Homo sapiens: one gene and its partners. The protein of the gene in region 2 purifies or fractionates together with the protein of the main gene of each other region. This does not show direct contact. Each region holds a gene or a part of one and is shown on either strand. Other genes may lie near its edges.

Evidence for each region.
Region 1: the proteins of MANEA (region 2) and PCYOX1L purify together in Homo sapiens (affinity purification with mass spectrometry; one large-scale study listed by BioGRID and IntAct). This does not show direct contact.
Region 3: the proteins of MANEA (region 2) and MAN2B2 purify together in Homo sapiens (affinity purification with mass spectrometry; one large-scale study listed by BioGRID and IntAct). This does not show direct contact.
Region 4: the proteins of MANEA (region 2) and NID2 purify together in Homo sapiens (affinity purification with mass spectrometry; one large-scale study listed by BioGRID and IntAct). This does not show direct contact.

What each region holds. Positions count from the first base shown.
Region 1 is NC_000005.10:149,359,313-149,365,295, reverse strand, and holds part of PCYOX1L (prenylcysteine oxidase 1-like isoform 1 precursor), read right to left. Parts: intron 2,660-5,983; coding exon 2,453-2,659; intron 1,261-2,452; coding exon 1,086-1,260; intron 1-1,085. UniProt on the Homo sapiens protein: Likely to have oxidoreductase activity. Required in the mevalonate pathway to regulate prenylation and enhances the bactericidal activity of neutrophils.
Region 2 is NC_000006.12:95,600,546-95,606,528, reverse strand, and holds part of MANEA (glycoprotein endo-alpha-1,2-mannosidase), read right to left. Parts: intron 1,703-5,983; coding exon 1,626-1,702; intron 782-1,625; coding exon 124-781; 3' UTR 1-123.
Region 3 is NC_000004.12:6,589,706-6,595,688, reverse strand, and holds part of MAN2B2 (epididymis-specific alpha-mannosidase isoform 1 precursor), read right to left. Parts: intron 2,517-5,983; coding exon 2,339-2,516; intron 1,156-2,338; coding exon 957-1,155; intron 1-956.
Region 4 is NC_000014.9:52,058,020-52,064,002, forward strand, and holds part of NID2 (nidogen-2 precursor), read right to left. Parts: intron 2,338-5,983; coding exon 2,105-2,337; intron 1-2,104.

The DNA of each region.
Region 1 (5,983 bases), on a different chromosome or scaffold from region 2:
GAGGTGTCCAGAAAGTTGAAATGTGGGTCTGGAAGTGAAGAGGAAACTAGGGCTGAGAGGGAGAAGTCATTTCCCATAAAACGTAGAAGTCAACATTATTGGTCTGGATATAATTGATAAGGGAGAAAAATATCAGAAAGAGAGGTAAGGAAATAAGCTTTGGGTGACATCTGGAGAATATAAGGAAGAAGTGCTATAAACAGCAGAGTTATAGAATGGGAAGGGAGTGGAGAAGTGCCAGGAACCAGGGCAGGAGGGCACAGGCCACACTTGAGTGACACTGAAGGGAGGCAGACAGTGATGGGGTCCGGGGAGCAGCCCCTGCGCCTTAGGCTGGAAGCAGGGAGCACCTTCAGGAGGGACTTTGGGGAAAGGTGGAGTGACAGCTTGGTGAACAGGGAGGGAACAGACCACTTGCCCTCCACATCTGGGACCAAAGGTGATGGGGAGGGGGCTGGAGCCCAGGGATAGGAGGAGTGGTGAAGAAAGGTGTTTATTCTAGATGGAAAAATGAGGACAACAAAGTTTGCAAATGAGTGGTCCACAGGCTGCATCTGCCCTGCAGAAGTGTTTCATTTGGCTTACAAGATGAATTGGTTGCAAATGTTGAAAAACTGAAAAGATTTCACACACGACTCTGGATTTCCAGCTTCTTCTGAAAAGTGAGTAGATCTAGCCACATGAGGTGGGCATTGTACACGGCTGGCTGCAGATGGCTGCGGTGGAGGGCTGGCTGCCTCCTTCAGAGGGGGCCTTGTTCTGCTCTCTTCCACCTGCTGATTCACTGACTCGCATCCCAGTTCAGCCCTTGTTAAGCGACTGAGTTTGCAACCCATGCTTTTATTAGTATCAGTGTAGTAGAGGGTAAGAAAATGAGAGTCAATGTGACAATACTAGGGAGACCATTACTGGACCAAATACGGCCATTCCTCATGCCAGGGGCTTGCTCTGAGCCTGCACTGAATTGTGCTGGCTCAATTCAGCAAGGACCTTTTCCTTTTTCACAAAGTACAGGCAAGCTGGTTCCTCCCCCACCTCTTCTCGGTTCCCCTGGAACGCCATCCCCACAGCTCTGCCAGCCCTACCTCATGAACTTCTCCATGACCTCCTCCACCCACATCTGCAGCCTCAGGAAGCTGATGCCATAGTGCCACCAGAGGCGGAAGAGGTTCAGCAGGTACCAGTCAGTCTCCTCCAGCATGAAGTGCTCCCCGCCGAAGATGGCGCTCCTGCCCACCACCTCGCGCCGGTGCCTCAGCCCTGCAGAGACAAAGAGGAGCCCCTCAGGTCCCCTCCAAGACTTGGGGCCCTCTTGATGCAAATGGACTGGTCCATTAAAGGAAACACAAATGCTATGGTTTGTTCATTTGTGCTGCTTGTTAATAAACAGTAAACAGATGCACTGGGAAAATGTTTGGACTACCAAGTCAATAAAAAAATGAAAATGAAAATAATGTAACATTTTACATTTTTTTTCCCCAGGAGGATCCACAAGTGAGGGAAATTCAGATTTTATCCCAGAATGTCCAGGGGGTGACAGCCACTGGGCTTGTTTGGAGATGGTGGCCTTGGGCACTGAGATCACTTGGAAGTTATCCTAGCTCCTTACAGCCATCCTGCACTCTGCAACTTGACAGAGCAGTGGACTCCTAAACACAGACAGAGCTGCTATGACTTGTTCCTTCCCCACCCCCACATACTACACACACTGCTCTCCACTTTAACAATACACTGTATCTTGGAGATTGCCCTGTATCTGGGCATAAAGACTTCCCCATTCTGACTGCTGAACAGCCTATTGTGTAGTTATACAATAATTTGTTTAACCCCAGGTCCTAGTGGATAGGCAGCTAGGATACTTTCAGCCTTTTGCTATTACAAACAATGCTGTAGTGAATAACTTGGTATCTATGCTACTTTGCACATCTGTAAGACCACCTGTAGCATCACTTCTGAGAAGCAGAGTTTCTGCATCAAACAGAACGTGTATTGGACAGATGCTGCTGGGTTTGAATCCCACCTCTCGCTGTAATGGCTTTAGCTTAAATCTATACATTTTCTGAGCCTCAGTTGCCTTAAGAGGAGATATAACACTCATCTTGCAGGTTGGTAGAGGGGAGCTGAGGTAATGCCTACATACCACCCAGAAGGTGCCTGGCAAGCACTAGCATGTGGAAGGTGATATAATCACGATTATTTAGAGGCAGCAAATTGAAAGGGAAAGAAACTGGCCTAGGAGTCAAACCTGAGTTCTAATCCCGGCTCTGCAACTAACTCACTGTGTAACCTCAGGCAAGTTCCTTCCCCTCTCTTGTTTCTGTTGCTCCATCTGTAAAATGAGATTGGGCCACATGACCTTCTGGCCTTGATGGTCTGGGAAGTCTGAGAAGGGCCCAGTGCTGTCACCAGCCCCAGGGCGCTGGGCACTGGAGCCCCAGGACTGACCACTCACCCAGCAGCTTGACGAAGTCCTGCATGTGCAGGCTCAGGGAGTGGAAGGAGGCAGCCCCGCTCTCATAGTGCTGCTTGTTGACTGAGATGGTGGCCAAGCGGCCACCCACGGTTCCCTTCTCGTACACGTCGATCTGCACCCGAGGTCCAAAGTGCTGCTGGAGAAAATGGGCCACAGCAGAGCCCCCAATCCCAGCCCCAACCACCGCTGTCAGCAGGCCCGGGAGGTAGGGAAGAAGAGAGACAGAACATGAGAGTGAGAGGCTGTAGTTCACACTTTGTATCCTCCTGCGCTGGTGGTTCCCAGGTGCTTAAATTTCCTAGGCTTATAACATTTCCAAAAGGAAATCTGCGGACTGAGTTGTCAGTAGAGCTATTAATAAGCAAAGGCAAACCTGAAAACTGCTGCCTACTATACTTTCGTTTCATAAAGAAAAAGGTATTTTGCAGCAAAAGACCAGCAAAGAATACTGAAAGTCAGGATGACCAATTAAAGAGAATAAATTTAGTTTTATATAAAACTCACTACCTTGCTTCTAACTTTCTTATTTCCCTATGAATTGTTAAAAGTTACTGACCAGTTCTGTTCAGTGATCAGTGTTTGGAAACCAGGCCTTAATCCAGGGATTGGCAAACTACAGCCTGCAGGCCAAATCCAGAAAGATGCCTGTTTTTGCAAACTAGAGTTTTATTGAAACACAGCCATGATGCTCTTTCTTTCAATTATTGTCTATGACTGTTTTCATTTTAGGCAGAGTTGAGTAGCTGCAACAGAGACTGCATGGCCTGAAAAGCCTAAAATATTTACTCTCTGGCCATTTACAGAAAAAAGTATGCCAACTCCTGGTCTAGTCCAACCTACTATCGGACACCTAAATCATCCTTATGTCTGTGTTTGTCAAGACTGGAATGTATCTGCCAGGCGCGGTGGCTCACGCCTGTAATCACAACACTTTGGGAGGCCTAGCGGGGGCAGATCACCTGAAGTCAGGAGTTCGAGACCAGCCTGACAAACATGGTGAAACCCTGTCTCTACTAAAAATACAAAATTAGCTGGGTGTGGTGGCGCATGCCTGCAATCCCAGCTACTCAGGAGGCTGAGGCAGGAGAATCGCTTGAACCTGGGAGGCGGAGGTTGTGGTGAGCTGAGATCGTGCCATTGCACTCCAGCCTGGGAAACAAGAGCAAAACTCCATCTCAAAAAAAAGAGACTGGAATGTACTCTATGATGGATTGTTCATTACCCTACAGGACACTATATTCCAGTTTGAAATCTTGTTACAAAGTTTCAGCTTTTTTGGGTCTTATCATACACTGTCTTTACTGTACCTCCTGCCTTCCTGTTATTTGTAAACTTGGTTTACATGCCATCACTATTCTCATCGAAGTCACTGATAAGAATGTTTCCTGGGACAGGGCTTGGAGGTGCTGCTAGGAAACCACTGCCTGGACAGACATCAATCAGTTTTTTTTCAAACAGGATCTGGCTCTGTTGCCCAGGCTGGAGTGCAGTGGCATGATATTGGCTCACTGCAAACCTCCCAGGCTCCCAAGTAGCTGAGACTACAGGCACATGCCACCATGCCCGACATATTTTTCGTAGAGATGAGGTTTCACCATGTTGCCCAGGCTGGTCTTGAACTCCTGAGCTCAAGTGATCCTCCTGCCTTGGCCTCCCCAAGTGCTGGAATTACAGGCATTAGCCACTGTGCCTCACCTGACACTAATCATTAAACAGTCCTGTGAGAGAACTATAAACCAGCTATGAAGCTACTGAACTGGACTACCACCCTACCTATAATTTTTGCTCACCATGTATCTGAAACACCACTCTCTTCTCATCAGACAGTCCAGAGGCCTTACCCCAAAAGAAAATTAAATAAATCTGGTGTAATTTGTCCTTACTGGACCCATTTGGACCCACAGAGTACCAGTTCCTGCCAGAAGTCACAGGCAATCCTCAGACAGCACCAGGTTCTCTATGATCTGGCCTCTGCTTACTTATTCCATTTCCTGCTTTACCCTCCCAAGATGCCACCTTCTTGTCTGTCTAGGCTTCTCTTATTGTGGGCACATAGCTTTGTTCTCTCATGCCTGGGCCTTTGTCCGAGCTGTTCCCTTTGATAGGAGTGCCATCACCCTGTGTCTCACTGGCTTCAACAGCCCTCAGATGTCACCTATAACTTGGCTTGACTGACCCACCTGAGGTGAGTCAGGTGTTCCTCCTGCATATTCCCACAGCACACTCTGCTTAGCCGTACTGTAGTCAAGTTATTTAAGGACAGAGAGAGAGTGCATGATCACTATGTCCCCAGATCCTGGTGGACAGTAGAGTTCATGAAGTATTTTTTCTGTGTTGAAAGAATAAACCACTTCCTCTCACAGTACTTACAAAGCCACTTCCAAGACAGCTTTGGATTTTATTTTAACCAGTGTGCTCCCATCCCCTCCATGTGCAAAGAGTCCCAAATTACCCATTTTTCCAGAGAAATTGATATTAAGGCCTAGAAGCTGCCCAAGATCAGGAAGCAGAAGACACCACTTCATTGTGAACCAGCTCATTTAACACAACTGACACCAATTCTCTAATTTACAGTAAGATGTCCTGGGGCACAAAGAAAAATCAAACAGGCTTCTGTCCCCCAGGACCCCAGCATGGAATGGGCAGACAGACTCCTGCGCAATTAGCAACGACAACCCATGATGAAGTGCAACAGGGTTCCAGGGAGTCCTGAAGGGGAAGCAGTGAATTCTGCCCCAGAGGGTGTGGGGACACAGCCTTCTTGGGGAAATAAGATTTCATGCAAGATGCTGGAGGACAATCAGCTTTGTCAGTGAGAGGACACGCACACTCTGCAAAGAGACCAGCATGAGAAGGGCAGCATATGGAACTATATGGGTGGGTTTAGAGGGTCCTGATGCCACTTGGGGGTTCTCAGATTTGGTCCTGCAGAAGCACAAGCATTAAGCCATCCTAACAGGAATCCGCATTCTTGTTGTGGGTAGAGTCCAAACCACCAAGGATGAACAGAGGCTCCCGTCAGAGGGCTGAGGAAAATCTAGAAAGCTGAAGGGCAGTGAGGCATTGCCAAGTGTCCTGCTCTGGATGACTCTTGGATGGGGCCAGAAGGGCCAGCTGGGAGGAAGGAGGCAGAGAGCTCCATGTTGCCACAATGCAGCAATTCTGCTGGGTGGAGGTCCTGCTCCTTCCCCAATGGTGAGAAATGTCCTGTCCTGTTGCCTGTTCCTAAGAAAACGGGGAGTGCCCTGCATATTCCCACAGCACACTCTGCTTACTCCTAGCCACACTGTATTCAAACGATCTAAGGACAGAGAGAGAACACATGGTCACTCATGGATACTGCCTGCCTAACTCTTCCACATCCTTCAATGCCTGGCTCAAACTCCACCTTCTCCATGAGGGCTTCTCTGGCTACTCTAGCCTCAGGATTCTCTTTTCTTGGCAAGCACTAAACTCTCAGTCTCAAACTGGTTTCTGGCATGCTTCAGTCTTCTTAACCCTGTATGGCCT
Region 2 (5,983 bases):
AAATATTTTTAAATATAACTAATAGTATATACTGATTTTGACAGTTTTCTTTCCAGAACTCAAAACGAAAGCTATTTTTAAAAATTAGGTGATTTTGATAACTATTAAACTTTAATCAATGCATTAAGAAACAGGCAGCTGGCGATCTAATGCATAAGTTGCTCTTTCCTTACTGTATTTTTCAGACCACTTGCGAGTCAGTTCTAGGTAAAGACCTGGTTTATGAGGACGGTAATCTAGGTACACTGTATTACTGGTTCTTTTGGGAACAGCTTTTTCAATCTGAGTTCCTTCATGCCACTCATTAAAAGAGGTGATAGAAATTAAGCTGGGGCGTGTCTGAAGTGCGGCACTCAGACCAATTTCATAATACTTCCCATTGATTCGGTTCCGAGTGTTTTGCGTGTTCCATGGACGGATGCTGGTATCTATGTATCCTGGGCCCACACTTGGGATAAATATTAAGTTGTATTTATCACAAAATAATTTTAGGCTAGCCCAATTCTGATGTGATGAGCCATAAGTAAAGCCATTTGTGGCAAAATATGTGTAAATTCCATCAAAACCACTTTGAAGAATATCATACTTATGTTTTTCTTCTACCAGAAGGGCAATAAACAGTCCATCATAAGGAGAATTGCGAATACTCCGAGACCCTGAGGTGGTTAACAGATTGGCCCATTTTTCAGGCTTGGTAATATAGGAATCATAGACATAAAACATAGGAAGAGCATTGCCAGTCTTCGTCTTGTACCTGTAAAAGGCCGGATGATTTCCATATCTAGAAAATAAGCATATATAAAAGTGAAATGAATATTCACAACTAATTTGCCACAGACAAAAACTGTTTACTGAAAATGAAGGAGTCAGTGCAGTTTGAGCACACTGCTCCATTTCTTAGGGGAATCAGTTGTGTAAGTGTAATAATTAAAAATGCATTTTTAATTTTACACATTAGAAAATGAGATACTGGATGCATTACCAAACAAGTATTAACCATCTCATATTGAGGTTTACAAATGATGACTAATGCCATAAAAAGCCTATGTCTCTACATTATAAATAATACTCTACATAATACCTAAACTGCTTTTTTATCTATCAGTGATAAATGTTCTACTGTTGCTGACAAGTTTCTTTGTAAGACTATGGCATCTGTCACAGACTATTATCAGTAAAATTCTTTCAAAAAATGAAAACTGTATTAATAAATTCTTTTTGATCAGGCTAGATATAAATGAAAATATCAGCTCTGGGTCTACTGTGTTAAAAGAAGTAGTTCACTTTTAATAATCTGAACCTTCTTTTTAAAAAGATAAAGCTATATTCTGAAGGTTTAGAAAATAATGTCATTTTAAAATATCAAAACTACAGAAATCATAAATAGCCTATAAACCTGTAAAACAGTAAAAACAGCAATCTTCCAAAAAGAAAGTGAATTATAAGAAACTTCAGCAATGTTCTTCGAAATGATGGTGACATTCATTACAATAACAATTTAATTTTATTAAAAATGGAATAATCATAAATCATTCAAATCTCAAATATAATTTAATGTACTATTCTTAAAACAATAATTATCACTGGATAATATAACAATATTTATAAATATTGAAGAAACTCACTTGTCTATAATATACTTGACATTTTTGTACATGTTTTGATCATCTCGATTGCTATATGGTTCTATGTGAAAAGTAACCTAAAACAAACAATAAAATCAGTTAGGGGATAAATTATCTATAATGTAAAATTAGAAGTATACTTAATATATTTAATAAAGTAACTGATTTAATCACCTTAATTAAAGATGAATATTTATTGAACACAGAAACTACCAGAGAATTTTTACCAATAAAATTTACTGCTAAATAACATGCTAAACATTTTATATTATTATCTTGGTTAATCTTCACAACTCCCTAAGGTATTTCTGTTTTCTTAGTGAGGTAATCAAAGATAGACAGAACCTTAAGAAAGGTTCAGTAAGTTGTTCCAGGTCACCCAGTTTGTTGGAGGTAATATTGATGATCTGAATTCCGAGTTCAAATGCTTAACTGCTGTGCAATGCTTCTTTTTATGTTTACTCCTTATAAAAATGTTTCTTACATATTTGTATCCCATATAATATATATAGGAAATACTCTATATTCAGATATATGTTTCTTTTAGGAAAAAGACCAAAAAAATATGGTCCAGAAAAATCTGGATTTTTTTCAGGCATGTGACCATTAAGCTTAAATTTAAATAGAAGTCATTAGCAAATTTATTTACATATAAATTCTTCCATATCATTAAAACAGCATTTTACAAAATAATATACATTAACTTCTATTAAAGAATTTATAATGAAATCGCTTAAAAATAATATCCACTAGTGTTATAAAGGACATTTTTCATGATGCCTAGGTATTTATGGTTTGGATATCCCATACACACACACACACACACACACACACACACACACCTACATACATATATACGCACACATACATACATTATATATATATATGTAAACATAGAGAGCAGTAATTACAAATATTTTTAAAATACTGTGCACAGACTAAAATTTTTTAACTTAAGGTTGGCTATACATAAATCAAGACAAACTAATTATGGCTAGTAAAACCATTCTGTATGCTACTTCTAACTAGTAAGGTAAAAAATACAGAAGATACTTCTCTTAGATGACAATCTATTTCAGATTCATAAAACAAAGAATGAGGATTTTCACTTTTATTCCTAGTTTTACTGACTTACCAACATCAACTAAAAATCTTTATGGCAGTCTAATAAATGTATTGATACTGTTTTAATTTTAGGTTTCAGGCTCTATGATGTATTTATGGAACTAGAGACTTCTATTGCAATATGAAACTCCTCTGTTTTCAATTACCCAATTAAAGCAAAATGTATTTTACATTAATCAGTGCTACTTGTTTTCACATAATTAATTTTAAAGTTAAATAATATTTAAAAAAAATATAATTTTCTACTTTAAATGAGATTACAGTAATATTATAAAAGTAAGTTTCTGTCATAAAAAACTAAGGTCAAATTAATTTTTGCAGCATATTGTTAGTATTGCCAGGGTAGTAACTGCTAGGGCAGCTAGATTTCTCAATAACTTTGGTATTTGCTTTTTAAATTCAGTTGAAAGCAAATTGCCTAGTGTATAGGTATTTTCATACTATTACATAATGTTTCCTTGGGTAATTCTTCCTTCAGTTACATCACTGTGTTTTCTAAATTTCCATTTTATACATAAAGGACACCATATTTAAGCAATATCCAACTTGAAATATCCTATATCAAAATGAATTTGCTTTTACAGCTGCAAACAACAAATAGCATGCTATTTTTGTAAAGCGCAGATCAATATATTTAAAGTAAATATAGTATTGATAAGTATAAAATATTTAAAATTTTCCCTCATGTATTTCTAATTTCTTAATTATAATAAAATTACTTTGCAATTTTTTTTTTTTTTTTTTTTTTTTTTGAGACGGAGTCTCGCTCTGTCGCCCAGGCCGGACTGCGGACTGCAGTGGCGCAATCTCGGCTCACTGCAAGCTCCGCTTCCCGGGTTCACGCCATTCTCCTGCCTCAGCCTCCCGAGTAGCTGGGACTACAGGCGCCCGCCACCGCGCCCGGCTAATTTTTTGTATTTTTAGTAGAGACGGGGTTTCACCTTGTTAGCCAGGATGGTCTCGATCTCCTGACCTCATGATCCACCCGCCTCGGCCTCCCAAAGTGCTGGGATTACAGGCGTGAGCCACCGCGCCCGGCCATTACTTTGCAATTTTAATTAATGATGTGATCTAGTCTCCATCTCTCTATTCCATTTGGAAAAATCAATTAGATCAATGTTAAAATAAATTTTAAAATAACAGAATTCTATACATAAAATGAAATGTCTTTCTTATCTTTAAAGAATAAGAATATAAACATTCCCTCATTTCATGTTTTTAATTTTGACCTTTCCTGTCTCTTCCCTACCCTGCATTTTAATAACTTTAATAAATAAATTTTAATAAAATGAACTTTTTTGAATGAAAATCTGATAACTTTCTCCTTCTCCAACTCTATTCTCTACCTTCACCCCTGCACACTCCCCTATCCCCTGCCACAACAAAATTGAGGTAGGTCTTCCTACTCCTATGTGGTGCCATAATACCTCATACTTTTCTCTTCCTGAAATTTACTTGTCTTTGTGTCTGACCTCCAGTAGATTACAAGGCATTTTAGGGAAAGAGATAATACTTCATCCTTCTTCTTAATATTGTCAGCATCTGGGACTGTATCTGACACGTAGCAGGTGCTAAATGAATGAATGCATGCATAAATAAATGGACTAATGATTTGCATGCAAAAACAAACAACAGTTAAACTCTTAAGTCTGTCACTTATACTGGATTTAGGTAAGATTCCCAAAGTTTCTGCCATGAATTCACAATATTCATTTAACAAGGAAAAAGAAAAAGGAGAGGCCATGACTAATATAACATGTTTCAAATGTAGGTGAAAATCATTTAAAAAAGAATCACGGACATACTTATATTCATGTTTCACATGGTTGAAATCTGCATAAGCCTGAAAAGCAGATAAAATGACTCTAGAGCCATATGCAAAGAAATAATGGATGTTGATAAACCTAGTATAAGAAATGTGATTTCTGCATAAAGTAGAAAGAAAATATGCTACTTTAAAATAACATACTAAATTTATTAAAATGAAAGAAGATCACCAGGGCTGAGTTGGTTCTTTCCCCTATAATCCTAAGCAAAAAAAAAAAAAAAAAAAAAAAAAAAATCACTGAATCTGCCTAATTTTCTTTTACTTAGATGAATGATTTAATTCAGTCAAGTTTTGATTAGATAATGCCATGTAACAACCCCACAATCTCAGTGGCTCTAAAAGACAAACATTTGCTTTTCGAACATAAAATCTATGAACTGGCTTATGATGGTTCTGCTCCAGGCTGGTTCAAATCAGCTCCACGTGTCTGTCATTCTGAGTCCTAGGCAGAAAGGGGCATGCTTTTCTTATAAAAGAGAATAAGAGCATAATCATGCAAGCACATAGTATACATTATCTCTTCTCACATCTCATCAGCCAAAGCAAGCCATAAGGCCAAACCCAACAACAACAGGGCAGGAAGTATACTTACTCTTTGCATGCAGGGGAAGGAAAACCAGATTATTTGCTAAACAATGACGGAATCTACCAAATATTTCTGTCATGTCTTACTCAAAAAATTGTTCCGTTGCTGTGTTCTTAATGGTGCAGGATATAGAGGAAGGAATCCAGCCCTGATTTTTACACTCTCTGCAAAACCAGCCTACTAAATGACAGTTATAAGTGCAACAGCCTTTGCTCTAGCAAACATGCAGACAAGTATACTTTAAAAGAACAGAAACTAAATCGCTTTGAAAAATCAAGATTTAAATTTTAGTTTCACTCATTTACACTTCCAAAAAAAAACCTAGTCACATTTGCTAAAGATAATGAAAAATAACTAAAGCACCAATCATTTCCTTTTCTTGCATGTTTGTTTATAATTTAAAAGGCACTTACTTAAAATAACTCTTGGTTGAAGTTAACAAATCAAAATTACAATTACAAAATATTTAATGACTAATATTAGTAAAAACATTATATAATCAAAATGAATGAACTATAACAAAAGTTTAACTGTGAGACGGATTCATTCCCTAAAAATTCTCCATCCATTTAGTATTTCCATGCTTTGAAGACTAGCAAGAAAAAAGAGATGTTACTAATGAACGCATTTTACACTTAAAAGTTTTAGATGTGGTCAGTTATGTGCATTGGAGGCTCCAATTTGTCAGCACACAATCTACAACATCATTAATCTTTTCCTATCAGATTGCCTTAGCACACTGAATAATTCTAGTAAGGTACTGTCATTCATTAAACATATTAAAATTTCCTTATATTAGCAAGAAAAGGGAAAGTTTTC
Region 3 (5,983 bases), on a different chromosome or scaffold from region 2:
GTATTAAGAGGTGGGATGCTTAAGAGGAGATTAGGCCATGAAGGCTCTGCCCTCGTGAACAGATTAATGTCATTGTCATGGGACTGGGATTGTTAGAAAAGCAAGTTCAACCCCCTTGTCCGGCTGTTCTTTTGCACTCAGCCTTCAGCCATGGGTGATGCAGAAAGAAGGCCCTCTCTAGACACCAGCCCTCCACCTTGGACTTCCCGGCCTCTACATCTGTGAGCCAAAGAAACTTCGTTTCCTAATCAATGACCCATTCTGTGGTATACTGTTACAGCAGCACCCAGAGGTCTAGGACATCTGCTGAGCCCTGCCTCTGTGCTGGGCAGGAGGCTGAGAGCACTTCTTCTCATTGAATTTTCACAGCAACCCTATCTATGCACGAGGCACCACAAATGTCCCCCTTTGGAGACAGGGTGGTTTCATGACTTGCACACAGGCAGCGAGTAGAGGCTTACTCACAGCCAGCCCTCTTAGCTCTCAGGCTGTGCTGCTGGTGGCCAACCCAGTTCTGGCCTGAGGACACAGGCATGATGCACAGGAGGTGCCCAGTAATGACTGTGCAGTGAAAGGAAGCCCGAGTCAGCCTCAGCATCAGGAAAGGGCTCGTAGAAGAGGTTTATGTGGAACTCATGCAGGAAGAGAAGGTGATGGAGGCCGCTCCCAGCAGGAGGCACCACCTGTGCAAAGGCCAGAGGCAGGAAACTGCATGTGGTGGGCAATGGTGAGAGGCTGAACCCTGTGGGAATCAGGTGGTGCATGTGGTGGCCAGGACGTCCAGGTGGAGTGAGCAGAGAGGGTCAGTCTCTGCCCCTGCGCCCCACACAGAACCTGCCTGGAACCCCTCCAGGGCTTGGAGAGCAGTGCCGAGCAGCCACTGAAGTGGGCAGAGGGTACGTGGACTATACCCTCCCTGCCACCAAACTACCACCCCAGCCCCTGGAAGCCTGTACCTGTGGAATAGGGCAGGAAGTCGTGGTGGTCGCGGACACGCCAGGTGACATTGAGAGCGTGCAGGGCACGGAAGTAGTCGCCCAGCGTGGCATACTGCACCGAGACACCGAGCTCGGCAGCATGGCTGTTGATGTGGTCCAGCAGCGGGTCCATGTTGGCAAACTGCACCGAGGCATTGAAGAACTGCTTGTCACATCCCTGCAGGGACATGGGAGCAACATCCTGTGCCGTGGGAGCAGGGCGCTCGCCCAGTGGGGGTGGGCCGATCGCTGCCCTCCACCAGCTGCCCTCCCAGTCTCCAAGGCGGCCAACAGGGGCCCCAAACCAGCTCCCATAGCAGTGGCTTGATCTCGGCTCATGCAACCTCCGCCTCCCGGGTTCAAGTGATTCTTCTGCCTCAGCCTCCCTGAGGCTGCAGGCGCCACCACACCTGGCTAATTTTTATATTTTTAGTAGAGACAGGGTTTTACCATGTTGGCCAGGCTGGTCCCGAACTCCTGACCTCAGGTGATCTGCCTGCCTTGGCCTCCCAAAGTGCTGGGATTATAGGTGTGAGCCACAGCGCCCGGCCCTGGGCATCTCTTAAGGCCCATCAGTGTTACTACTTATCCAAATCATTATAATTAATGATTATTAATTATTATAATTAATATAATGATTAATAACAGCAATAATAACCATGACTGAGTTACTGATCTTAAGCTTGCCTTCACAAGGGCAGTCACGGATGAAGAAGGCAGGCTCTGGGGCCCGCCTGACTGGGTCTGAACACAAATTCCACCCCTTCCTAGCCACCCTAAGGAACTCTGTGGCCTCAGGAAAATTCCTTAACCTCTCTGGGCCTTGGTTTCCTCAACTGTGAAATGGATACCAGCCTGCTTCCTAGGCCCAGTGGTGCAAATTAGATGGCTGAGACAAATATATCCCACGGGGCAGTGCCCAGCACACAGCAGGTGCTCACTAAAGGTTAGCTGTGACGATGGCCACGACGTGCCGGGCACTGGCTTCCCGGGAACGCTTCACCTCTCACCAAGCCTATGAAGCCTGCTGCCACCATCCCCATTTTACAGCGGAGGCAACTGAAGCTCAATGGACTCTAAGGCACGCAGTGCCCGAGCCGGGAGCCAGCCCGGCCCAGGCAGGGAAGAGAGCTGAGTGGGAGCTGGAGAGGCCAGCGTGGGTGAGGGTGCTTTTCCAGGTGGGGGAGGGGCTGGTAGAGTGGGAGAGGCCCAGGGGTCTGCAGGGAAGGAGGATGGAGCCACTGGGCTGAGCATGGCTGCCTAGCTGGGTCTGGATAGGGTGGCCCTGGGTGCAGGGACCAGGGCTTGCATAGTGCTCCTTGGGCTGTGTTGAGGGCACAGCACCTGGGACTCTGCCTTACCCAGGGCCAGAGGACGTGCGGTGTCCGGAACCAGGCGGCCCTCTGCTTCACGTTGGCCACCAGGGCCTCGGCATAGAGGTTGATGTTGGCTGGGGTGACAGGCTCACTCATGTTGGGGTACACCCCATCTTGGGGAGGCTTGGGGAAGACAGCCACGCCATTCCAGTAAAATCCTGACCTGTGCGAGGGCAGAAGGTTAGGGCAGAAGACACGAACTCTGTGGACAGCCAGGGCTCACACCCAAGTGCCATGTTCTCCCAGCCTTGGGACCTTGGCACATCATTTCACCCTGAGACTGAATTCTCCCACTCCATGACCGACGGTGGGTCACAGATTTGTTTGCTCATTCACGCAGGCCAACTTCTCGCCCATCAGACCCCGGGTCTCAGGACCCCAAAGAGGCCGGGGGCTTGGTGAGGCAAGTGAGGCCCTGGCCTAGGGCACAAAATTTATGGGGGTGCCTCAATTCTTAGTAGTTGAGATAAATGATATTTTAATGCAGTACTTTAAAAAATGAAAATTAATGCAAAAAACCCATGAGGAACAAAATGTCAGAGTTTTAAATAAAGACAGGCTCAGTATTTAACATCTTTCTCTGTTTGCCTTAGGCTGGGGGTGTGGAGAACCCCCAGTTAAGTGCCTTCCTTGCTCACACTGTGCAGCCTCGGGGTAGCAGCCATGGAACCCTTGTCTGGAGCTCTCCAACCTGGGCAGCCCCTTCCAGCATTCCCACCTCTGTTTCTTTTACAGACAGGGTCTTGCTCTGTTGATCAGGCTGGAGTGCAGTGATATGATCACGGCTCACTGCAGCCTCGAACTCCCGGGCTCAAGCCATCGCCTCAGCCTCCCCAGGAGCTGGGACTACCACCATGCTCGACTTGTTTTTGAATTTTATGTAGAGACGAGGTCTTGCTCTGTGGCCCAGGCTGGTCTCGAATTCCTGGGCTCAAGCAATCCTCCCACCTCAGCCTCCCAAAGCATTGGGATCACAGTCATCAGCCACCAGCACTGCCACCTCTAGCCTCACCAAGCTCCCTGGTAGAATGTGGAGCAGGTTGTTGTGAGGATTAAATGAAAGTCATTTATGGAAAGGAGCTAGAAACAGTGCTGGGCACAAAGGAGGGCTGACAAATGGCAGTGACCGCTAATTAATCCCGGCCAGTGTTCTTCACCCCCTCTGCCTTGCCTGTTGTCTTTCCTCTTCCAAGAGAGGCTAAGCACCTGGCCAGGGCAGAGTGCGGATTTGAACCCAGGGCCGTCTGACTGCACAGAGACCAAGGCTGACTGCTGCCACCACGTGGAGGCTGCAGAGCTGGTGGCCTGAATCCAACGCTGGCTCCACCACGTCTGCCAGCTGTGGGACCTGGGGCGGGCTGCTGTGCCTCAGTTTTTCCTTCTGTAAGATGGGGCACTCACAGCATCTCCGTCAGTGGGCTGCTGCGAGGGTCTGTGAGGTATCACAGGGAGAATGCTTGGAACAGGGCCTGGCTCATGGTGGGTGCTTGGAACAGCAAGCCAGGAATGTGAATGTGGGTTCACTGCCTATCCTCTCTGCCCCCGGGGGGTCCTGGTCCATGGCTCCACACTCCTGGTCCCCACTGAGTCTTCACCCAAAGCCTTCTGGGGAAGAAGGTGTACAGCGAGGCTAAAATCCCATGTGCTTCTTGACATCTGAGCCTTGAAGGCCCCCAGGGGCCTAGGAGTCCCCTGCTGTCACCTGATAGCCCCCACCAGCAGAAAAGTCCTCTTGTCTAGCTCTTCCACTATCAGTCAGACCAGCTGCACCCCACCTGGTCCTCCACCCAACAGTTTCCACCTCCCTGCCAGCTGGTGAAATTATTCAAATGAGCCACTCACGTCCTCTGCAGGAGTCGGAGGGCACCCGCCCCCTTGCTGCTACCCAGCTGCCCCTGCGTGTTCAGTCCGCTCCACAGTGCACTCCCACGGGGCCTTGGCGAGTAAGGTGTGAGCTGTGATTGTATGTGATAAACAGAAGCTGCTATGGACGTCACCTGTGCTGGGTAGGGTGGTGTGTATTCAACCATCTACCATTTAGGGTGAGGACCCCTCCCTCACCACGGGGTGAACGGGAGGTGATTGGACAAGAGGCAGCTCCGCAAGACAAGGATGAGGAGCGATTTATTCCCAAGGGTCTCCAGGCCCCTTCCCTCTCCCACTCCTCCAGCCTTCTTTTTTTTTTGTTTTGAGATAGAGTCTGATTCTGTCACCCAGGCTGGAGTGCAGTCATGATCTTGGCTTACTGCAACCTCCATCTTGTGGGCTCAAGTGATTCTCCTGCCTCAGCCTCCCAGGTAGCTGAGATTACAGGCAATGCTGCCATGCCTGGCTAATTTTTGTATTTTGACTACAGACAGAGTTTTACCAGGTTGGCCAGGCTGGTCTCAAACTCCTAACCTCAAGTGACCCACCTGCCTCGGCCTCCCAAAGTGCTGGGATTACAGGTGTGAGCCACTGCGCCTGGCCTCCTCCGGCCTTCTTCATTGTGATCCCTGATAGGGACAAGGATGAGGAGGGGAAAGGGTGGGTGGGGACGAAGCCTTGTGCCAAAGCCCCAACAACAAAGCCAGGCCACGTCAGGAACGGGTGGGGAAACACCCATGTCCGGGGGCCTTCCCCCTGCATCCACAGCACCCCTATCCCTGCACCTGCAGCCTGGAACCCAGCTTGCTCTCCAGGCCCAGGCGGGATAGAGGCAGGGAGATCACTGGGGTTGAGGGCAGGTGAGCTTGGAGGGTGTTAGAGAGACACTGGACAGTGCCCTGGAGGACCGTGGACGGGATGGGGTGCCGATGGATGGCTCCTGGAAGTCAGCACATTCAACTTCCTCACCTGGCAGGTACGGACAGGCGAGGCGAGAGCAGAAGGGGACCTGTCATGGCCAGGAAGGAGGTTCTTGGGAACACTGATGTAAAGACCTCATCATTGATTGATTGATTGATTGATTGAGACAGAGTCTTGCTCTGTGGCCCAGGCTGGAGTGCAAGTGGTGCAATATTGGCTTACTGCAACCTGTGCCTCCCGGGTTCAAGTGATTCTCCTGCCTCAGCCTCCCAAGTAGTTGGGATTACAGGGATGCGCCACAACACCCAGCTAATTTTTTTTTTCTTTTTTTGTATTTTCAGTAGAGACGGGGTTTTGCCATGTTGGCCAGGCTGGTCTCAAATTCCTGACCTGAAGTGATCCACCTGCCTTGGCTTCCCAAAGCGCTGGGATTACAGGCATGAGCTACTGTGCCCGGCCTATTTTTTTTTTTATTTTAAATAGAGACAGGTTCTCACTCTGTTGCCCAGGCTGGAGTGCAGTGGTACCATCAGAGCTCACTGTAGCCTCCAACTCCTGGATTCAGGCGACCCTTCTGCCTCAACCTCCTAAGCATCTAGGACTGCATGCACCCAGCTAATTTTTAAGTTTTTGTAGAGATAGGTTCTCACTAGGAAGCCCAGGCTGGTTTTGAACTCCTGGACTCAAGTGATTGTCCTGCCTCAGCCTCCCAAAGTGCTGGGATTACAGGCATGAGGCACCGCACCCAGCCAAGATCTCATCCTTTAAACAATCCTCTTTTGGGACAGGGACTCATAACAAGAAGCAATTCAGAGTCACACAGAACTGGAGTCAAATCCTGCC
Region 4 (5,983 bases), on a different chromosome or scaffold from region 2:
TCTCAGCAATTCCACTTTTAAGAATTTGTTTTAGGGAGAAACGAGAATGTGAGCAATGTTTATTATGCTGTTTACTGCAATGATATTTATAACAAGAAAAATCAGAAATACATGAAATGTTCATTAATAAGCTGTCTTTATACATATATGACATAACGTTTTGTAGCCTTAAAATGGTAGTATAGACAGACATCTGACTAAAAGACCCCTATAAGAAGTGATTAATGTGAAAACACCACTTACATAGCAAAAGAACCATTTTGGTTTTAAAAGTTTTGTATATACCTAAATTCTAGAAGGACCATTAACACTTGTTATCACTTGAAGTAGTGATCATGGATAACTTTTACTTTTATTTCACATTATTCTGCATTGCTTGTACTTTATTATTTGTATTAAGCATGGATTACAATAAAGAAAAATACGTGAGTCATTTGGCCCCATATCTTACTCTGCTTTCGCCAAGCAATTCAGAGATTTCTGGGAAGTATCAAAGATAAAAATGAGGGAAGGCATGAAAGGGGGTAAGTGGAAATGCTGTCTGTGTGTTTGTGTGTCACACGTGATTGTGGATGTTAGTTCCAAGAGACCTTTATGGCTCTGCTCAGGGAACACAACTGCTTTTTCCCACAGGTCTTTTGGCCCCACTGTCTCCTGTCTCCTGTGTAGATGCCAGCACTTACCCAGGGCTCTGTAATTGTTGATCTATTTGTCTATCAACCCTAATAGGGTACAAGCTGCTGATGTGCAGGACCAGTGTCTTAGAAATCTTTGTATTCCATGTGCTTGGCCATTGTGACCTCTCTATAATAATAAATCTATGGAATAATAAATCTATGAGCTCCCAAGTAGAAGAGAGGGTGGAACCAGAGGAGGGAGAGTAAGGAACTGAGTTTGCTCCAGAGTCCAGACTAAGCGGCAGCCTAGATGGAGCCCTAAAGATGCCCAATGTGGATCATAAGGATGGGAAAGGAAACAAGGACTCAGCATAAGATAAAATAAGTAGTTCAGCACTCCAGACTTGAGCTTGGATTTTGGCTTTGCCACTTAACTTTGAGATCATAGGCAATTTACTTAACTTCCCTAAGCTCCTCTGTAAAACTGGGAAAATAGTAGTACTAACCTACAATTCTTGTGAGTTTTAATTAAGATAACATCTGGAAAGTGTTTAGCATGATGCTTGGCAAGTAGTAAGTTTTCAATAAATGTCAGCTCTGAGTAAGCAAACCTGGCTATAGTGGTCTCTTTCTGGTAGCCGAGCAGAGTGGATGGCATGCTAAAAGTGTAAGGTGTTTCTATACCTACCCAGGATTGATTTAATGAAGTCAAGAAGCAGTTAAAGGAGGCCAGGAAGTAACCAATGTATTCTATCTGGCTTCTATATTCAGGAAACGAATAAAAGCGAGGGCACCCCTACCTCCCCTCACACACCCCCCAAAAAACCCTGAAGTCAATAAATATCCTACTGGCACTATCTGTACTGGCAAAATGCAGAAGAGCTTATTATTGCACTAGCTAAGTAAGCCCTCTGGATCATTCATTCATTCACCCATCTATTTATTAAATGCCCATTATGGGCAGACACTGATGAGTCTAAGGAATGGGTTCAATTCATTTTAGGTAATGAAGCCAGAGAGACATCCTCAGACTTCTGGAAACCTATAAATCTTAGTTATTTTTCCTGCAAATTACATTGCTCAATTTAATGTTTAACAGTATCTGTCCAAAAGACTAAATCACAATGTTTCCTCCTGTGAAATGATTAATCTGGAAAACCTCAAACTGGGCAGTTTATGACTGGATATTTTTATGTGGTTCCAAGAGCAATGTTTTTCATAGCAAGCCTCAGTGGCTCTACAAATACACACACATACTGTTCTGTTTCCAGTATCTATACCCAATAGAGCAGGAAAAATAAAGGACCTTTTATGTTTTGGTGAACTTGATCCTTCCAGGGTTGAATCTAGTTCCTTGGTTTTGACTTGATGCCTTACTTAGAAGCCACCAATATATTATGTAATGGTCTTATGGTCACTTGTGTTCAGGTACTTCCTAAAAGTCCTTATATTCAAATAGGAAAGGGCTTCAGCTCAATGTTACTTACTGATAGAGATTTTTCACAGACTGTTCAGTGCTAGTCAAGCTGAAATATGGTCCTTCTGACTTCAGATCATCAGCCTCCCCTCGGCAGAAGCCCACCCGAGCTGGAAGCTGAAGCTGGACATTGTAAGACTCTTTGGGGCGGGTTCCAAGGAACTGCAGGCCGTTGGCAGGATAAAGAAAGAGGGCGTAGCTATCAGACCCATCAGATGCCAAAACTGCCTGGAAAGTGTTCAGCTGTGAGGAAAAAAAAAAAAAAAGAGAGAGAGAGAGAGAGAAACATCCTGTAAAAAACAAATAAAAGAAGAAAGAAACAGAATGCAAGCAAAGCATCATAACGTGCAAAGAACTTCCCCTTTTTCAGGATTCCTCCAAATTGTTTTTAAACATAACCTTCTTTAAAATTTCCTCTTCAAGTTAACAATATAATTTCATAAGCAATATTATTTATTATTGCAAATACCATTTGTCAATTTAGATTAATAGTTGAAATACGCATTGGTAAAACATAGGTTAAAAAATATATACTTTGTAAGGTTTCAAACTTCTCTCATGTAAACTCTTTCAGAGCTAAGAGCAATCAGCAAAATTAACTTGTCCATCCTGCAGTCACTGCCCTAGTTTATAACCCTAGGCACTCAGCATCTCTCATTTGCATCATTCATTCATTCATTCATTCATCCATTTATTAAATGACCACTATGGGCAGGCACTGTGTTAGGCACTAGTTGGTCAAAAGGCCTCCTTACTGTCTCACAGCATCACTCTCTTTCCTCTTCCATCTACCCTTTCATACGAGCATCAGGGTTATCCTCATTTCACAGATGAGAAAAAGACACAGGGGCTAACAGGTCTTCCTCAGGTCAGGTGGCAAGTATGTGGTGGTGGGCCAGCCAGCTCTAGAGCCCACACCCTAGGACACCCTAACCCCTCCTCAACATGGCATTCAAGGTGAGTTGTAACCTGGCTGCATACGTCCCTCCCAGGCTCAGTTCCACTGCATCTTTGTCAGACTATTTAATAGTCCCCATTTGTACCATGTCCTTGGATGCTTCTACACTTTGTTCGTGGTTCCCTGTGCCTAGAAAGCCTCCTAACCTTCAAATGCTGCCACTCAGAGGTGTTTGTGATTCCCTATAGAATAATTTCTGTTCTCTGAACCTCTGTAACACCTTTATGGGCATCTCTAGTGAGCATTCACCTCATTATGCTTGGTTAGTTGTTTATATGTTTGTAAACACCATTCATTTATTCATTCATACACTAATTCAAACAGCCAAGTGTCTACTTAAGCACCAGACGTTATGCTTGATGCTGAGGATGTGAAGGAGCAAAAGACAGGCTTTGCCCAGGAGAGTCTCACGGTGTAGGACTGGGAAACAGCCATGGTTGAAATGGTAGGAGAGTCACTGGAGAAGGTGGTAGAGGCCAAGAGCCGGGGTGTGTGTCCAGGATCTCAGGGTGGAGGTTGGGAGGTGTCACAGAGGCAGCTGGTGAATGTTATAAACACTGCAGGAGCCAACACAGACCAGAGAGGGACCAGGAGCCTGAATCAGCTGCCAATTCAACACCCAGGTCCTTATAGGATCACTCCTTAACATTCTGTTTACCCTCATATTTTCAACAAGATGAGATTTTTGCCTTTACCTTCATTCAGCGACCGCTCCTCCTAAAGATCTGTGAACAGTGCTTGATTCTCAAAAAGCTGTTATGTTTAGGCTTCTGAAACTGTCTCTCTCTCACTAAATCACACTACTTTTACAATTTAGTAAGGAACTGGGAAGGTATTTTTAAAACACAACTTACTTCACAAATAATGTGACTCTTAGAAATATTATTTACTGGTAAGTATCATTACCTTTCCATTCTGCTAGACAGACAAACTCGGGCACAGAGAAGAACATCACATTTCACTGAAGGAAACAGCAAGGAAGGAATGGGCTCTTCCCTTTGTTCTAAGTCTACTCCCACAGTTGTTCTAGCTCTTTTCTAATGTTAATTTTTCCTTTCAATGTTTAATTTCAAAGTAAGGTTTTGAGGTTTTGCTAATAGGATAAAGAAATATAGATGTAACACACTTTTCAAGAGAAAATAAAATACAATCAGCAGTTCTTTTAGTTCTCTAACCCAGAAAAAACAACATCTTGCTTTGCTTTTTTCATTCATTCAATTCACAAAGTAACAGGTGCCTAGTTTATTTGTTATTGTTCCAGTTGTTGATTGTTCATCAGCAAAGCTTGACTTTTCCAAAAACAAAAAGCAAGAAATGTTTTTAGAGCTTCTCAATACTAGGAAGCCACAACTACTGCCAAATATAAACAAAGGCTGTTCTGCCTCATGTCTATCCATAAGATAGTCGACATCATCAACTAATGTGGACTCAATAACTTCAGAGTTATACATTAGTCAGAATAAAGAAAAATCAACTAGGGAAAGAAAAGTACTAGAGGAAGGAGAAAAAACCCCATTTCAAAAAGCTAAGCTTTCAAAGCTCCTGGCATTGATCTGCCATAATAAATGTGAGATAGGAGAGAATCCTGGTTCTAAATTTAGAGAAATTCCATAAGATAAGGAGGTTGTAGAGACTGTGAAGAATTGAAGGGGATGGGGAAGGGGGGAAGAGAGTAGTAAACAGAGCTGTGAAGAGGAGAGTCTGACTTTTTGCTGTGAACTCTGGGCATTTAGCACTTTATTTTATTCATTCATTCATTCAACCAGCCAACAAATTCATTTCAATTAAAATTTATTCAACATCTTCTATATACTGTTCTTGAGATGAGCACTCATTATGGGTGGCAAGTATTTAATTTCTTTGTCTCCACCAAAATAGGCAAATATCAGAGGAAGGAAACAACTTCCTTTTAAGTAGAATTTATGATCCCAAAGTACACGCCAAAAGAGTTTGGCTGTTTAAAAGCCACCCACACACTAAATGATCACTTGTAAAGTTCTTGGTCAGTTCTACAAAATTCTACATCTAATTGCTAAAGAGCCCACTTCATGAAGTCTTGAAGGGCTCCCCCTCTCAAAAAACTCCTTGACTGGCTTCCAAACAGGAAAGGTCCTCACATTCCTAGATACAAGCTTTTGCAAGAGCCGCACAGGCTCTGTCTCCAAAGAGAAGCCCTCAGATGGGCTGCCAAACCTGACAAACGAGTCACTGGTTCCCAGCTCCCCCAGGATCCCAGAGAGGAGAGAGGGGCCTCCACAGGGAGAGGAGCAGCACAGAGAGGATCAGGGTGAGTGGCTGCAGGCCCTGTTATCAGAAAGAGAGAAAAGCCAGAGCCCTCTGCAGAAACCAGAGCCTGACTCTCCCTCCCAGGTACAGGACATCCCAATCAATGTTGAAGTGACACTCATCAGAGCCAGGCTGATGCATGCAACATACACCCCTCTAAGAGTTTCTAATTTTTTCAATTCATTTAATTAACTGCAGCTATCTGGACAAAAATCAGAATAGTGACATCCTTTTCTTCAAGGGGCTTGCCTATAGAGGCTTATCAAAATGAAAATGAAAATGGAAATGAAGAATTAGGGTGACTCTTATAGGGGTCACAAAGTTCTCTTTGTCATCTTCCTCAGGACCACATGTCCTCTAGAGCTCTAGGATCATTGGGTCTGGCCTCCAGTGTTTGCTGTGAACACTAACCTCCATTCCTTAGTGTAGTTCTTCATCTCCCACTGCCTGTAGGACACTGTCACATGGGGGACTGTCCCTCATTTATTTTACTGCACTAAATCCTACAGATCCTGCCAAAAATTCAAAGACAAATGCTGAGTGCTATCACATCCCTAATACTATATCCTTCCTGATACTCTTCAGCAAAACGTCAGCATTTCTAATTTCCATATATGGTTCAGCATTAACCAATTTCCATATATG